2 separate regions of the Homo sapiens genome follow, and region 1 is linked to region 2. The links come from fine-mapping of genetic effects on gene expression. A gene starts in region 2. The other region holds a variant in brackets. All regions are shown on one strand. Distances are between the middles of the regions. Region 1 overlaps RASGRF1 (Ras protein specific guanine nucleotide releasing factor 1). Region 2 holds the start of RASGRF1 (Ras protein specific guanine nucleotide releasing factor 1).

What was found. PIP is the estimated chance that this variant, and not a neighbour inherited with it, causes the effect.
Region 1: its variant is fine-mapped to the expression of RASGRF1 in monocytes after Pam3CSK4 (Quach 2016, PIP 0.95).

The regions. Positions count from the first base shown.
Region 1 is chr15:79,000,865-79,009,195 of GRCh38, forward strand. RASGRF1 (Ras protein specific guanine nucleotide releasing factor 1) reads right to left here. Exons shown (of 27, transcript NM_001145648.3): 14 at 5,322-5,570; 15 at 2,938-3,311; 16 at 798-923. LOC105370917 (a long non-coding RNA gene) reads left to right here. Exons shown (of 3, transcript XR_932519.4): 2 at 5,025-5,117. Among named protein-coding and RNA genes, the nearest start is that of CTSH, 60 kb to the left of the region's middle. RefSeq lists enhancers at 2,863-4,062, 4,991-5,826 and a silencer at 6,263-6,557. The variant T/A (reference allele first, on the strand shown) is at 3,442.
Region 2 is chr15:79,087,683-79,096,013 of GRCh38, forward strand. RASGRF1 (Ras protein specific guanine nucleotide releasing factor 1) reads right to left here and starts at 3,098. Exons shown (of 27, transcript NM_001145648.3): 1 at 2,541-3,098. The coding sequence starts at 2,816.

The DNA.
Region 1 (8,331 bases), 87 kb before region 2:
TGTTACCTATTGGGTTCCTTTTGAAAGCCTGGATAGTGGGGAGTTCAGGCTGCAGGCGGCCCTTTGCATGTGAGAGCAGGGACATTGGAGAAAGCTGTGTGGGGAGGGGCTGCCTGGGAGGTGGGTCCCCTGGGAGCTCTCTCTCACCATTGGGTATCTCACAGCCCCCTTGTATAGGGGAAAGGGCTTTATGAAAACCGGAGACCAAGACTGCTTCTCAAGGATCCTTCAGGATCAGGAGTCTGGGACTGCGGGTGAGCAATGTCACCGCCTCTTGGAGTCTTTCCCCTTATTTGAAACACCTAGCCTTTTTGCAAAGCTGTCAAGATGATGAAAGGGGTCTGTGCAGAGCCTGGCACTCAGTTCAGGAAGCACCTTCTGAACCAGGATCTTCCATGAATGAGCCCTAGATGCTGAGCCTCCCTGCCCACCTGTGCTGGGGTTCAGGAAGCACCTTCTGAATCAGGATCTTCCACGAATGAGCCCTAGATGCTGAGCCTCCCTGCCCACCTGTGCTGGGTGGGCTCAAGGCAGTCTTGTCTGAAGTTGGGAGAGTGACTTGGTTGAGTTGAAGAGCAGGATCTACCCAGCCAATGTTCCAGTGCCCACAGCCCCTTCCCTTGGGGTGGCGGGGGGCGGGTGGTGGTGGGTGGGTTATGAAATATCAGAAAAGTTACTGCTCTTAGGAGTCACTCATAAAGCATAAGGGATGACACCCACTTGCCTTGACTCGACTTGACCTACTGCCCTCTCCCAAACTGGAAATCTATTTGTGGTTTTGAATTGGTGCATTGTACCTGAAGAATTTTTGTTTTTGACTGATTTGGGTGTTGTTGGAGATTTAGTTGGTGATGTTTCAGTATCACCATCATCACTCTGGTTTTGATCAATATCTGACTCCTCTCTCATGGAGACTTCTGAGCCTGGGAGAAAAGAAATAAATAATTTTACTTTTCTTAATTTTAATTTTAAAATTTAAATATTTGATTTTAAAATTTATGTCTATAATTTACTGAGGCAAAACAGAGTAAACTTGGGATACAGCCACTGAAGAAAGTTTAACAGCTTTGTTTCCCGCAGGACTCATCAGAACCTTTCTCTTGCTAATGAGCACTGTCGATCTCCAAGGTGGCTTTTGCTCCACCAGGGCTTCTCAAACCTTACCAGACACACCTGGGGATCTTGTCAGAATGCAAATTCTGATTCAGGGGTCTCAGGCAGGGCCTGAGAGTCTGCATTTCTAACAGGTTCCAGGTGATGGCCATGTGGTTGGTCCACGGACCACACTTTGAGTTACACGATCTCTCTTTTTTTTTTTGGTGAAGCTTATTAGTTAAGGTGACCATCTGCTCCAGTTTTCCTCTGCTTTTAACCTATTGCCGCGTGCCCCTGGTCACTCTTAAAATGTCCTGTCTTGGATAATTAATTATAGAGGCTTCCTAATCTTGGGAGACTCCTGGTCCACACACCCTGGGGAGGCTGATGAATTATATTAAAAGCCTAGGTCTGGCACAGTGAGGTCTTGGTCAGAAACTCTTAACTGCTCTGGGCCTCAGTTTACCCACGTAGAAAGTGGATGTAGTTGCATCTGACCTTGAGAACACAAAGCCACAGGTCTTCTCTTTAGACAAGAATGTCCACAGGCACATGCACACGCACACACATTTATACATAACAAATACACATACACACACATATACACACACACACAGTTTGGCACATAATTAGATTCATGGGCTCCTGGATCACCAGTCAAGAAGCCTGGTACCAGATGACTTCTCAGGACTGCCTTGCGTTACATTTCAGAATGTGAAATTATGAAATTTCTGGCAGGCCATTTCCTTGGTGACTGACTTTCAGCTGCATGCATCACCCATTAACTGCATGTGCCACGGTGAGTGTTACTTGGTATGGAGCCTGGCGGAGGATTTATCTTGCCCCAGCTGTGCCCTCTGCTGGGGGTGCCCTCTGCCTTCCCTCTTGCCAGCTCAGAGGAGAGAAATCCTTCCCTCTTCAAAGGCCTCCTCCTCAAAGCCTGGGGCGTCTGACCAGCCCCTGGTTGCACGTGGGTGCGTGCGTGTGTGCACGTGCTCTCATGTGCTAACCGAGACAATGCTTGTGGCACCCAAGATGTGGCCTGTTCGGATCTAAATCAGAACCAGACCTGACACTTTTAGAACAGTCAGGAGAAACCCTGAGAGTAGGGAGGCTCCAGCCTGTCCTGGAATCATCTCCAGCCTGTCTCACACTCAGCATTCCAGGTCTGCCTGGCGTCCAGCTGTCCCCGAAACACACAAGGCCTTTTCTTGCTCCTCAGTCATTCCCATCCTGTTCCCATGGTCTAGAATGTTCTCCTTTCCTCTTGGTAAAAATTGAGATCGAACAGTTCTTCCGGGAAGCCTTCTATGACGCTCCTAATGGTGTTCCCACCCCAACCTCTGTGCCCCTGGAGCATCCTCCTGACACAAGCCATTCGTATCAGGTGTCCACATTTCAGTGTCTGGTCTGGGTCCTCAGCCAGACTGAATCCCAGGGGGCAGGAGCTGCTGACGACCTCTTCTCTCCCGGGCCCTGAATGGGCCTGGCCCAGGCCCTGTCCTCTGCAGACATGGACAAACACAGGGATGCCGTAGGATGCTGTGGTCAGGGCAGAGGGATGCCTAAATTGCTCGTGATGGGAACTGACTCATCTAAAGTGTGGCGATGCCCTGGGAATTTCTGCCTGCCTCCCCCCGCAGCCTGGGCTCCCACATACGGCTACCTCTCTGCACCGCCCAGACTCTGTGCTGCCTCCACTATCTGCCTGGTGGGACCCCCAAGCCTCTCCCTTCCTTCCCCATGGGAGCAGGAAGAGCAGCCCTGAGGCCTTGCTGGGCCAGGCTGAGCCTCAGTGGGGCTGGGAGGCTGGGGGGCAGCTCCGACGGCATGGCCACTCACTCTGCTTGCTGAGCGCTGAAGGGTCTTCGGGCTTCTCAGGGGTCGTATCGCCCTCATCTGGAATCTTGTTGGTGAAGCTGCTGGACACATAGAGCTTGCTGGTGTCCAGCGTGGCCTTGCTGAAGGGTGACATGGCCGAGTACATGCTGGTGTAGCCATTGGAGTTGCAGCTGAGGGCGGCCAGGTCCAGGGCCTTGCCGCCAGTGATGATGGGGATGTTCAGGGAGAGCTTCCGCCGGCGGCTCGGTGACGATGTCTTGGTGATGGACAGAGGTGGCGGCGAGGAGAACTTGCGGGTGGCGCGCGGGGACTTGGGGGGTTCACCGTACAGGAGCTTATTGTTCTGGCCACTGGCAAACAGGAGCTCCAGCGACCTGTGGGGAGGGCGGGGGTGAAAATGACAGTTAGCGTAGGCCTGCCTGCCCGCCTAGGCCTGGGGGCCGTCTCCGGTGGGGCTCGGAGTGGCAGCAACGGCTCCATCATTCTTAGGATCCCTGAAACCCA[T/A]ACTTGAGCTGATCCTCTGAGCAGGGACAATGCGATTAAATGGCCTGGGGCCAAGGGTCCTGCTCTGGATGGTTTGGGCAGAGGATCTGGGGCTTCTATGCTCCGCCCCCCCACCCCCTCAGGGCAGCAGCTGCAGCATCTGACCTGAAGTGCTAAGGGTCCCCTGAGCTGCGGACTGTGCAAAACCCCCCTCCATCCCACACAGGGCCTGCTCCCGCCTACACTCTCTGGCCTCATCCTTAGAGAGGTCCTCAGGCATGTTTTGTGGAATGAGGAAGCTGAGGCTCAGAGACAGGAAATGACTCATCTGATGCCTCCTACTCTAAACGCAGGGTCCTTTCCACCTGCTTTGGGGCTTGAGCGGCCCTATATGCAAACTTAGGGGGATGGGAAGCTGAAAGTGGCCCCTACCATCCTCATGACAGGGTTCCACCTCAGGCCAGGCTGGAAACAGGTTATACATCCAGAACATTGCAAACCATAGCTTGTCTCATCGAGGCTGTCTGCTCCACGTTGCACACAGGATAGGATTGATCTTTTAACCCTCACTGTTGCCCCAGGACGTAGGCACTCTTATTCCTACAGGATAACTGCAGGAATGTCACAGGTAGGAAACTGAGTCTCAGAAAGGTTAAGGGACTCAGCCAAGGCCATAGGGCTGAGAGCTGGCTCTGAACCAGCCTCTTTGTTCTGCAGGGCACTGCTGCTGGGAAAGGAAGGACACTGTCTGCTGGGCCCCTGGGAATGATCTCAGTGACTTTTAGGGGGTAAATCCATCCTGGATGGGATGTTTGCTTCTGTTTTCTCAGAGCCCTGGGAATCTGATCATTGAGGTTTCAGAAGTTCAGGGCAGAGAGGCAAGATGTACCCTGCCCCAGTGAGGCCTGAGGTGGGGGCAGGAGGAGGGAACAGAAGAGGGAACGGGTGTATTCTGGGTCGTTGCGTTGCTCTGGCAGCAGAGGTGTGGATTGGGGGAGGAATGGTGAGGTTCCTGGGGAGCCCTGGGGAGCCAGTGTGATTCAGGAGCTCTGCTCCAGGCAGCCCTAGAGCTGAGGCTCTGGCATAATGTCTTGCCTAGGGTGTTTTGGGGCAGGGCACTCAGAGAGCCTCTGAGCCTCTGAGGGCTGGGATGGGCTGTCCACAACTGGGATCTGGGTAGGTGGCCTCTCGGAAAAGATAATCACCTACCATTCCTGGATGCAGTGAAGTCCATTAGGGGCCTGAGCCAATCCCTGAACTTGGCCTACTGCTGGACAGCCTTGGCCAAGTCCTTCATTGCCCCATGACTTTTGAGAAGCAAAGGCTAAGGTGGCCTGCACTCCTTATGTTGACTCACCCCAAGTAGGCCAAAAAGGGCTCCATCATTTCTTAGAGTAGGAGGTGGTCTAAGCAAAGCAGGGGTAAGAGTCCTTTCTCCCTCCCTCCCTCCCTCCCTCCCTCCCTTCCTTCCTTCCTCTCTCCCTTTATTTTTCTTTCTCCCTCTCCCTCTCTCCTTCTGTCCTCCTTCCCCTCCTCATTTCCTTTCTCTTTTTTCACCAAAGGAAGCACTGTCCTTTGGTGACGGTGGGACCCTGTGCTTCCAGGAGCGGGGCTAAGAGGTGAGAGCACCCTCCACACCCCAGGATCCTGGCAGGTGGAGATGGAAGCAGCTGAGACTGAGCAGTAGCACCAGGCAGGTGAGCTGTCCCTGCCTCTCTGCAGAGGGAGGCTTGGTTCCTGGGGAGAGGGGGCAGTGGCGGTGTGTGTCCCGCAGCACCCCAACACGTTACTGCTGCTCCTCCAGGGACCTTCCAGGTCACCCCCCGGCCCCGTGCAAGCTCAGTTTTCCTCCAAGGCTTGGAAGCTCTCCGGGCATGGGAGGAGGAGGGCACCTCAGCCACCTGGCAGGAATGGCACTGATAGGCTTCTTGTAGATGGTAATGAGCTTGTCCAGGACCACGATGGCGGTGGTGAAGACGCGGTAGGAGTGCAGGAAGGTGTTGAGGAAGTCGATGCTCAGGAAGCGCAGGTCCGTCAGCCTCTCCAGCAGCCGCTCCACACTGGCGTAGCGGATCTGCAGCACTTTGCAGGAGTTCATGGTTTTGCTGAAGCGAATGTCAACATCATCACAATATAAGGAGGCGTCGGACCTGAGAGGGGAGGAAGGATGCAGAGGTGATGTGGGTCTAAAGGCATCTGAATGGCACCCACCAGGCCTGCTCATCACTGCTTCCCCCACACACTGACAACACAGGATGGTCTTATTAAGAGAACAAGCTTGGGAAGGATGACACTGAAGGAGGGCTACAACTTCTTTTTCCCAATATCCTAAAAACTCTCCATTATAAAACCCCTAGAAATACTGGAGAAGTATTACAAATTTAAAAACATTTGTTGTTGAGTTCACAAGACGTAAGGAACTCTGTTTACACAAATGTGTATGTGGATGGGGTGCAGTGGCTCACGCCTGTAATCCCAGCACTTTGGGAGGCTGAGGTGGGAGGATCACTTGAGGTCAGGAGCTCAAGACCAGCCTGGGCAACATGGCGAAACCCTGTCTCTCTTAAAAATACAAAAGTTAGCTAGGTGTGGTGGCCCATACCTGTAATACCAGTTACTAGGGAGGCTGAGGCACAAGAATCGCTTGAACCCTGGAGATGGAGGTTGCAGTGAGCCGAGACTGTGACACTGCCCTCCAGCCTGGGTGACACAGCGAGACTCTGCCTCAAAAAAAAATATGTGTACATGAATGTTCTTAGCAGCATTATTTGTAATAGCCCCAAAGTGGAAACTACCCAGGTGTCCATCAGCTGATACATGGAAAAACAAAATGTGGTCTATTTGATCTGCTAGCAGCTGTCAAGATGTAAGGACAGGTGTCCAGTGCAGTTAGCCAGAACAAAGGGGCTAAGATGGGGTGAACTTGCAGGGGTCTTGTTTCAGCTGCTTGTGAACTTGAGGTCAGCAGCCTCTACAGGGCATAGTGGGAACCAGTGGCCCTGAAGGCTGCTGTACCACACAGCGCCCTCTGGTGCTTACGCCACTGGAATCGTCTTTTATTGGTCATCCAATGGGAGCTATTAGGACTCTTGGGCAACTCTGGGTTTTCATTTTTTGGATGTTGTGAGTCTTTGTAATCATGTTTTACTTTTTGTTTTGACTACCAAGAATCTTAGAATCAAATATAGTGCTCATTTCTTTTTATTTACTTCTTTATTTTTTGTTTGTCCTTATTACTTACATGCTGATGGCCGTATCTAGTTTTTTTTTTTTTTTTTTTTAATGAGATAAGGTCTCATTTGCTCAGGCTGGAGTACAGTGCGGTGGTGTGATCATGGCTCACTGCAGCCTTGCTCTCCTGGGCTCAAGTGATCCTCCTGCCTTACCCTCCCCAGTAGCTGGGATTACAGGTACATGCCACTATGCCTCGCTAATTTTTGTATTTTTTGGTAGAGACACGGTTTCACCATGTTGCCCAGGCTGGTCTCGAATTCCAGGGCTCAAGCAATCCTCCTGCCTTGGCCTCCCAAAGTGCTGGGATGACAGGTGTGAGCCACTGTGCCCAGACTATCTAGTTTTTCTTTTTTTTTTTTTCTGTTTTTTGAGATGGAGTCTTGCTCTGTCACCCAAGCTGGAGTGCCTCTGCCTCCACGATTCAAGTGATTCTCCTGCCTCAGCCTCCCGAGTAGCTGGGATTACAGGCATGCGCCACCACGCCCAGCTAATTTTTGTATTCTTAGTAGAGATGGGGTTTCACCATGTTGGCCAGGCTGGTCTCAAACTCTTGACCTCTTGATCCACCTGCCTTGGCCTCCCAGAGTGCTGGGATTACAGGCGTGAGCCACCGCACCTGGCTCACCTGTTCTTTCGAGGGTATCTTCTACCTAGGAGTGCAGATAGTGCTCAGAGGAAGTGAGCAAATGGACATAGCATCCCTTTCACACTGTCTTTCTTAAATACTTTTCTTTGGAAGCATTCTTGGGATTTGAAATAAATAAACTTTATCGAGTGCCTTCAATGAGCAGGGCAGTGGGATTTCTTTTTAGGATGAGAACAATATGGGAAAAGCACAGGGCCCGTAAAGATACTGCAGTTCAAAAAGAGAGCATTCCAAAGAAACCGAGGAAATGCTGCCTTCTAAGTTAGCTTTGCTGCAAGACACAAAACATTTTAGAAAACTCCTGATTTGGTTTCCACCAAGATTCAGGAAAGTATACACTGCATCTATGGGACCTTGAGAAGCAACCATGAAGAGGGAGTAATCCAAGGTCAGAAGGATTTCCTGGACATGAAAAACAAGAGTGCTAAATTGAAGGCTGGGACGGATGCAGCAAATGGCAGATCGGACACTCAGAAAATCTGAGTGGTCTATTAAACACATTTGAGAAAGTCCCCTAGAACTCAGAGAAGGACAAAGAGGTTGAAATGACAGAAAATGGAAGCAACACAGAGTGGACAGAGAGGGGACCTCTCACTACCGTGAGACAAAGTAGCAAACGAGAGAAGCCACGCCTGCTCATTTCTGCTTGCTGGCATGACTCCACAAGGCCCCTGACTCCGTGACGATGTGCAGCGCTCCGGAAAGATGCTTTGAGGACAAAGCAGGCCAGAGCACATGGCCTCCCAGGTCTCTTGCCTGAGTCTCTATTCTCCCTACAAGATAAATGACCCTCGTCTTTGCCTTTCCCAAACATAATATGACGTCTGATAAGGTTAGTGATGACACCTCTGTCATCTCTAACCAGACGCACTCTCAGGCCCAAACCTTGATGTGATTCTGCTTCAGTGTCACTTCTCAGCAAGTCTGATGTGATTCTGCAGGTGCTGAGCCCCCCACCTGCATTTAAGCAGTGGGCTGAAACACTGTGCTGATATCTGATAGGACCTCACAGAAGGGTGGCTCCCGGGCTG
Region 2 (8,331 bases):
AAGAGAAACATGGAGCAGCTGCTGGCACCATCGATTTTACTCAAAGATTGAGAAAAGAAACAGCGATGAATTTTTGTACACATGTGTAGCCGGAAGGAGCAGGATCTAGTTTTCCACAGGAGTCAAAGTTGGTCTAGAGGCAAATGGAACCTATATAAACATATGTGATTTAAGTATGAGTCTTTAACAGAAATTTGCGCCAGACCATCATCTGCTACTTTTAACCCGGTTCTGTTCTCTTGTGCCAGGAGGGCTGCTCTCGTGAACAAACCTGAGGATCTCTGACTAGTAGTGTTCTGGGGAAACAGCTCTGAACATGAGTGCATCTCATCAATTAGTTTTGCACTGATGTTCCTCCCATGATCTACTGCTAGGATGATTCAATACCTGGGCCAAGAGTTGGATGATTTGAAATCAATGTAGGGTCTCATTTTCAGGAATTCTTAGGCATTGGATGAATTCTAGGTCTGATTCTGCCACTGATTTACCCCGTTGTTGGGTAACTCCCTTTCTTTGCCTCTCAGTTTCTTGGTCTGTAAAATGGGAAGGCTGTATCTCTGAGGTTCTGTTCGACTTTAACATCTGGTGACCTAAATAGCTCTGTCCAGGTGGGTATAATTCAGATTCAACTGTGATTCGTCTAGATCTAACTAAAATGTATTGGGCGCTTACTTTCATATACATTATTTAATGTAGGGCTCTCAAAACCCCAGAAAGGTAGGTGTTATTATCTTCATTTTGTAGATTACAAAATGGAAACTCAGAGAAGTTCAGCAAGTTAACTGAAGTCACACAGCCAGGAAGTCATACAGCTGAGATTCAGTCTCAGGCCTGTCTGCCTTCACGTCCAGGGGGCTGAGAACAGATAATATGAGCCCATGCCAACTTGGCTTCCCCCACCCCTCACTTCCTGCCTACCCAGGAGCTCAGCTCTGTGATCTAGTGTAGTGGGTTGAGGGATGGAGGGGGGATCTGGCTGGGGCTGGGGCTTGGGCTGCAGGCCCCGGGTAGGTATGGGTATATGGGTAGACACTGGCTGGAGAGGGGCAAGTTCTGAAGGGCTGAGAGCAAATTCTCTAGTCTGGCCTGGGACTGGCTCTTCCACATGAGTTCCCCAGGCTCCATTTGAGCTGAAGCTTAAGGAGCTGCCTGCTCTTTGCTCTTCTTTCCATCTGGGAGCCCCTGCTCACCACATGGCTTGTCATCCCCAGGGACCCACCCTCAAAAATTCCTGTCCACACTTCCCAGTCCTCAGAAACTATCTCCTAACACCCATTGGCTGAAGGTAGGGAAGGAAGAGATGTGCTAGAGAGACTGAGCTCGGATCTCTGTCCTGACAATTGGGAGGAAGACTTCAAGCGATGCTTTTATTTCAACCAATTCAATCACCACCAGTCTGTGTCTTCATGCAGCAGTGGCTTTTGAGATCTCGGTTGTCTTTTCAGAACATTGGGACGGCCTCAACAACTTGCATGACGCTGGGCAAGTGAATTTCTCTCTCTGGGCCTCAGTGTCCCCATCTAGGCAATCACCAGCCGTTAGGCCCTATGGATGGAAGGTTCCTGCCTGCAGTGGCATTTTAGGATCCACTATCATCTGCTTTATCTTCCTAGTGGCAAGGGACTGGACCAGATGCTTTTGGAAAGCGCACCAAGCTTAAAGGTGGCTCTCTCTGCAGGTGCCCCTCCTCCCTTCACGCCAGAGGCTCACCCCCACCCCGCCCGGGCTCCCTGTTAGAGCCAGGCCTGGCTCTTCAGCCTTGCAGCTCAGGAAACCAGAGCGCAGCGCTATAGCCGCGACTGCGGCGGCGGCGGCGGCGCAGGGGGCGGGGGAGGAGAGAAGCGCCCACTTCGTCCCGCTGCCTCCGCAGCAGCCCTGGCCCTAGCCCCGGCGCATCAGAGCGGTCCTTGGGAATCTTTGGGCTTGTTGCTCCGGCGGCCGCCAGCTGGGAGCCCACCACCGCTCGATGGTACCGAACCGACCCGTGTAGCCCCATAACCCCAGCCCAACTCCGAGGAGCTAGCGCAGACCGCTCTCCGCCCTCAGCTGCGGCGAGGCAAGGGCTGGCAGCGCTCGGACGCCTCCGTCTTGCCCTTCCCATGCCTAAGCGCGGGGAATTACACGTTCCCGGTGTAGAACAGACGATCGGGGCTATTAGGGCTGGGCGGTGGGAGTGGGGGTTGGGAGCACCATTTTTGGCTGGACGTGTGTCCAGACTCATCGTCTCTGGTCCTTAGGACCCCATCTTCCTCTGCATCTCCAGGTGTCGGCCCCTCTGTACCCGCCTCCCACGGGGCTCGTCCGGCGAAGGGCAGCCGCAGCCCACATCTACTCCCCGCCCTCAATCCCTGCCCCCTCTGCCCGCCGCAGTCACTCGCCTGGCTGGGAGCAAGCCTCCCCTCTCGCTGAGGGTGCAGAGAGCGCCTAGGGCGCCAAGAGTAGAGGGGCCAAAGTTCAAGCGCCATCAGCCAGCCGAAGGCCCTGAGCCCCCAGGGCCGCGGCCGGGACGCAGGGAGGTCAGGACGCGACGCTCGCCTCACCTGTTTCTCCAGCGGCTCCTTGGCCGACAGCGCCGGCTTGGGGGAGGGCGCGCGGTCGCAGACGCAGCCCTCCAGCAGGTAAAGCCCCGAGGGCCGCGAGCTCGAGTCGCTCTCGAAGTAGAAGAGCAGGTTCTGCAGCAGCGCGAACCACTTGGTTTGCCATTTTGTGTTGTCCGAACTCCGCTTGCTCAGGTAGCCTTTGCGCGTGCCGTCCTTGCGCGCCAGCAGTCCCAGGGACGCGACGTGGCCATCATTCAGCCGGATCCCCTTCTGCATGGTGCTCAGAGGCCAGCGAGACCCCACGCGCTTACATCTTCTCCGCGCAGCAGCCCCCCGTCCGTGCGCGCTGCGCGCTGCCTCTCTCTGGCGCTCGCTCGCTCGCTCCCTCTAGCTCTCCCCTCCCCCCAAATATCTACACTCCAGGATCTGGCGCCGAGCCGCGGCTTCTTGAATCCAGATATACCATTCCCCGCTGGAACCTCTTCTCCGCTCCGCAGAGCCCCAGTACCCGGAAGATGCCGCCCGACCCTCCTCCGGTGCCGGGCAAACTGAGGGACTGGCGATCTGCGCGCTGGCGAGGGGCAGGCGGAGTCATGTGACGCCGATCCCTCGAAGAGCCCGTTTCAGCAGCGCGGACAGGGACACACGCACGCAGCCCCGCCGAGGCGCAGAGCCGCGCGCAGGCTGCAACTTGGTGCCTCCTCCCCCTCCCCAGACACACACACACGCACACGCACACGCACACACTCAAACCCTGCCCTCCCTCCCCTCATCTCCCCTTCTCTCCCTCGGATGTTAAAAAGCAAATCAGATCAATTTTCGTTTAACCCAATGAAACCCCGAAGGCTCGCCATCCCGGGAGTTTGCGTCTTTGCGCCCCACCGCGGCGCACTGTAGACCTGGGGTTAAGTGCCAGTTGTCATTTTCTCCTCCAAAGGCTCGCCCCCCCCCCCCACTTTATTTCTAATACGAGGTGGAAGGAGGAAGGTGGGTGGCGAAATAGAGCTGCAAAAGCGTCCAGTCCTAGTCTTTGCATAGTCAGCCGGGTCACATTGAATTCCAGCATCCGGCTGCACTCCCGGCGGCTTCCCCAGCTACCTGAGGACAGTACAGGGGGTGAGATGGGGTGGTGGTTGGTGAACGTTGGTTACTTTATTTTATATTATTTTATTTTGAGAGTTGCCATAATTACCGGCGCCACCCCCCGTGCACCCTGAGGTCTGGTTGGCGAGCCGCTGCTGGGAGTTTTCTGCAAATACCCCCCAAAGCCTGAAGGCGGGCTTCAAACGCAGGCGCCGGGGACCATGGGAGCCTTCAAATAGCTGCGCTGGCGCAATGATACCTTAATGATAGATTTTCCGTTCTTATTTTTAGCTCTCATTCGCCTACACAGTTACACGGCATTTATCCGAGAACGTCACAGCGCCCGCATGCTGCACCGGGAGGGCGCGCGGGCCGCCGGGCGAGCCGGGAGCTGGGGCGGGGAGCGCGCATCGCTGTCTGCCGCAGAGGGCAGCGAGCTCGCCCCGACCCGGAGCAAGCCGCGCCTGGCCCGGGCGCTTTGCAGCGGGGATGGGTGCCCGCGCAGCCCTGTGAAGGAAAGACACCATCTTTCCGCACGGAAACTGCGTATACCCCTCCCCCGACACACACACACACACACACACACACACACACACACACACACACCCCACACTCACACACAGCACACACCACACACGCACAGATACACACCACACACCACACACCCACACACCACACACACCACACACACACACCACACACACCACACACACACACCGCACACACCACACACAAACCATACACCACACACACCACACACGCACACACACACGCCACACACACCGCATACACAAACACCACACACCACACACACACACCATACACCACACACCAACACACCACACACACACCACACACCCAAACACCACACACACCAAACACACACCACACACCCTACACACACACCACTCCCCACACCCCCCCACACCCCACCACACACACGCCACACACACCACACACAGACACCACACACATGCCACACACCACACACACACCACACACACACCACACACCACACACACACCACACACATGCCACACACCACACACATACCACATGCCACATACACACCCCCCACACTCCCCCACACCCCCCGCCACACACACACACAACCCACACCATACAAACACCACACACTACACACAACACCCCCACACTCCCCACACCACACACCACACACCACACACACTACACACACCACACCCACATACCACACACACCCCTACACACCCCTACACACCACACACACCCACACCCACACATACACCACACACCAGACCACACACCACACATACCACACACACCATGCACACCACACCACACACACCACACCACACACACACCACATAACACACCCCTCCCACAGACCAAACCTGGGCTGCACACACACACGCATCACACCTCACACAACACATGCAGCACACCACACACACATACACACACACATACACACACACACCCTAGTTTGGAGCCCTAGGGAAGGGCTTGGAAACCAGGCAGCCCTGTGTAGGTCACGGAAGAATCCACAGAGAAGCTCTGCTGTGGAGGAATGGAGCTGCCCCTGTCCTGAGCACAGTGAGGCAGGCCTGTGTTCCTGGAGTGGGAGCATTTTGGGGGAGGAACTGGCCTTGTTAACCTTAGTCCTCCCTCTAGTGCCATCGTTCCAGTCCTAGGGACCCCAAGGACTCAGTGGTGCTGATTTTTCTTCACAAATAATGAAAATAGGCTAGATGGCTAAGCCTTTTCATTCAGTCTTAATTTTCCCTACACTATCACCATCTTTTCTTCTCATTTGCTCTCTTCATGGAAGCAGAGTTTGCAGGATTGAGGTTCTTAATCTGGCCTTTCTTTATCTAAACTCTTTTATTCGGAAGTCTGTTACAGAAGCCAAGAAAACTTCAGGGAAGGGGCACTGTTCTAAGTGCTTTAGATCAATTAAGCCATTGAATCGTCATGCAACCCAATGTAGTAAGTTTATTTTTTTCCCCAATGAGCTCCATTGTACAGACGGGGAAACTGATGCATGGGAGAGTTGAATGACTTGCTCAGGGCCGCTCAGCTAGGAAGCAGCGGAGGTTGGATTTGAACGGGGCAGTCTGTCCCAGAGGTCTTTGTAGAGCTAAGTGGGTGGTCCCTGGGTTGCAGGGAGGTTGGCTTTTATCCCAAGAGGGGGTACGATGGTCAAGAGAGGGTCTCCCAGGTAGGCTGGAGTCAAGGCTGAGCCTGCACAGAGGCTGCTGTGGCAGAGGGACTTATGGTACATAGGTTCTGAACCTGGGCTGCACATCAGAATCACCTGGGAGCACTTAACAAGCACTTCCCAGAGATCATGGGTGGGCTAGCTACACTTTCATGGGTAGTTGTAATGTGCAGTGAAGGTGGAGAACCGCTCATATACGGGAGAACTCATGATATGGTCACGTGCACATGAATCACCTGGGGATCTTGTGAAAATGCAGATTCTCTTTCAGTGGATCTGGGACAGGACCTGATAATCTGCATTTCTAACAAGTTCCCTGGTCATGAAAAGCTGCTGGTTTGCAGACCACACTTTGAAAGTTCTAGGGCACTCGAGAGGTGGGAGGCAATGGGATTCATTCATTCATTCACTCATTCACACACATTTCATTCCACTAGTGTTCATTTAGCCCTTCATCTGTGCCAGGCATGGGTGGGCCACTGGGGATACAGTGATAAACAAAATACAGTCCCTGTCTTACAAGGGATGCCCAAGCATGCCTTCTCTGTCTGACCCTTAGTGTAGCAGGAAGAAAACCATCTTCCCTTGGATCTGGGGGAAAGATTCCGATGAGAGGTGGCAGGCGGATTGCCTGAGCTCAGGAGTTCGAGATGAGCCTGGGCAACACGGTAAAACCCTGTCTCTACTAAAATACAAAAAAATTAGCCAGGTGTGGTGGCACACACCTGTAGTCCCAGCTACTCAGGAGGCTGAGGCAGGAGAGTTGCTTGAACCCGGAAGGCGGGGGTTGCAGTGAGCTGAGATCGCACCACTGCAGTCCAGCCTGGGTGACAGAGCGAGACTCTGTCTCCAAAAAAAAAAAAAAAAAAAAAAAAAAATGAACCCACTTCAGTGAGTCTCAGCCCTGGTGCACTTTGGAACCACCTGGAGATGTTTTAAAAATCTCTGTGCTCAGGCTGAACCCCAGGCCAATTAAGTCAGAAACTTTGAGGGTGGGCCCTGGGCATCTGTGCTTTTAAAAGCTCCCCAGATGATTCCAATGCACAGCTGGGGTTGAGAACCACTGGTCTAAAGCCTGGGCCAAGAACATCTGCTCTCCACTCCCTCCTTCCCCTTGCTGGCATTGGGGAGTCTGAGCCACCTCCTTTTGCTGGTCTTGGAGTTACAGGAATTCCTCGTGGGCCAGTCCATGCAGGAGGGCTGGGCTTGGCTTAAAACCTCTCTGTGAGAAAGAGGGGGGTGGCATCAGCCCTGGCGCTTTGATTACTCCCATCTGAGCTGTGTGCATATTGATTTCTCTCCAGTCCCCACAGCTGGAAACCGGAGAAGAGCTGATTGGCCCCTCTGTGGTCGTTTGCCTCAATACTAGTCAGAGCTCAGAGCCCCTGGAAGGTGCTTAAGTTAGCTGGCTAAGAAGACAACGTTTACCAGGCCGGCCCTAGCTTGGGCTGGGGTGGGGAATGCCAAGAAGGGGGTAGGCATTCCCTGCCATAGCTGGTGGAAGTGGGCACACCTAGCTCTCATGTGTGCTGTCCACTAGTCCTGAGGTCAACCCTCCCTCAAAGGTGGAGAGGATGTCTACAGGAGCACCGTAGGTGCATCTGGGCTTTGCCATGCTTCATTCCATTCTCCCAAGAAGGATTTGCATAAGGGTTAATAATCCCATTCACAGATGGGAAAACTGAGGCCCAGACAGTGGAAACAACATGCACAGAGTCTTACAGGGAGGAGCTGGGATGAGGTACTCTGACTGCTCGTCCAGGCCTCATCCCAGAAGAACTGGCTTCCTGGATTTCCCACCTCCCAGCCCTGTGGGCTGAGGTCTCTGTAGATAAAGAATCAAGAAGGAGAATTAAGGAATATTTTGGTGGGTTTGGTCTCTGCATTTAGAAATGGCTAGCTAATGACAGGGACATTGCCCAGTTCAAAATCCTGCTAAGTCTTCATGTGGGATTTTGATTAGACTTTGGACTGGAGCTCAACTTAAGCATTTGTTGAGATGGGTGTCCTGTGGGTCTGACTGGATGGGAGGTGCCCGCTAGTGAGGATTTCTAGTGTGTGTGTGTGTGTGTGTGTGTGTGTGTGTGTATGTGTGTGTGTGATGTGTGTTGTCTATTGCATGTGTGGAAGTTTCTGAGTGGTATGGTGTGTATGTGTGTGGGGCATGCAGCGTGTGTGTGGATGGAATATCTAGAGAACCTCTGCTTCCTTGGCAACATATTCCATAAGAAAAATGTAGTTTCCATGTCATTTAAAGAAATGAAGACTTAAGCACAAGGGGTCAGAAGCAGACTTGGAAATGGAGGCTTTGCCCTTGGGGATTTACTACTCCAACTTTGGGCTCAATTGGTCAGCTTTGCCCAGACATCCAACTGCGGACACCAGCGATTTACGCTTTTACTTTCTAGCCAATGAAAATAGCCATAGTATTCCGTTTGATTAAAATTACTGCAGGCTCTTTGTAAAAAACTTAGACAATATAGAAAATAAACAGATAATTTCTCCAAT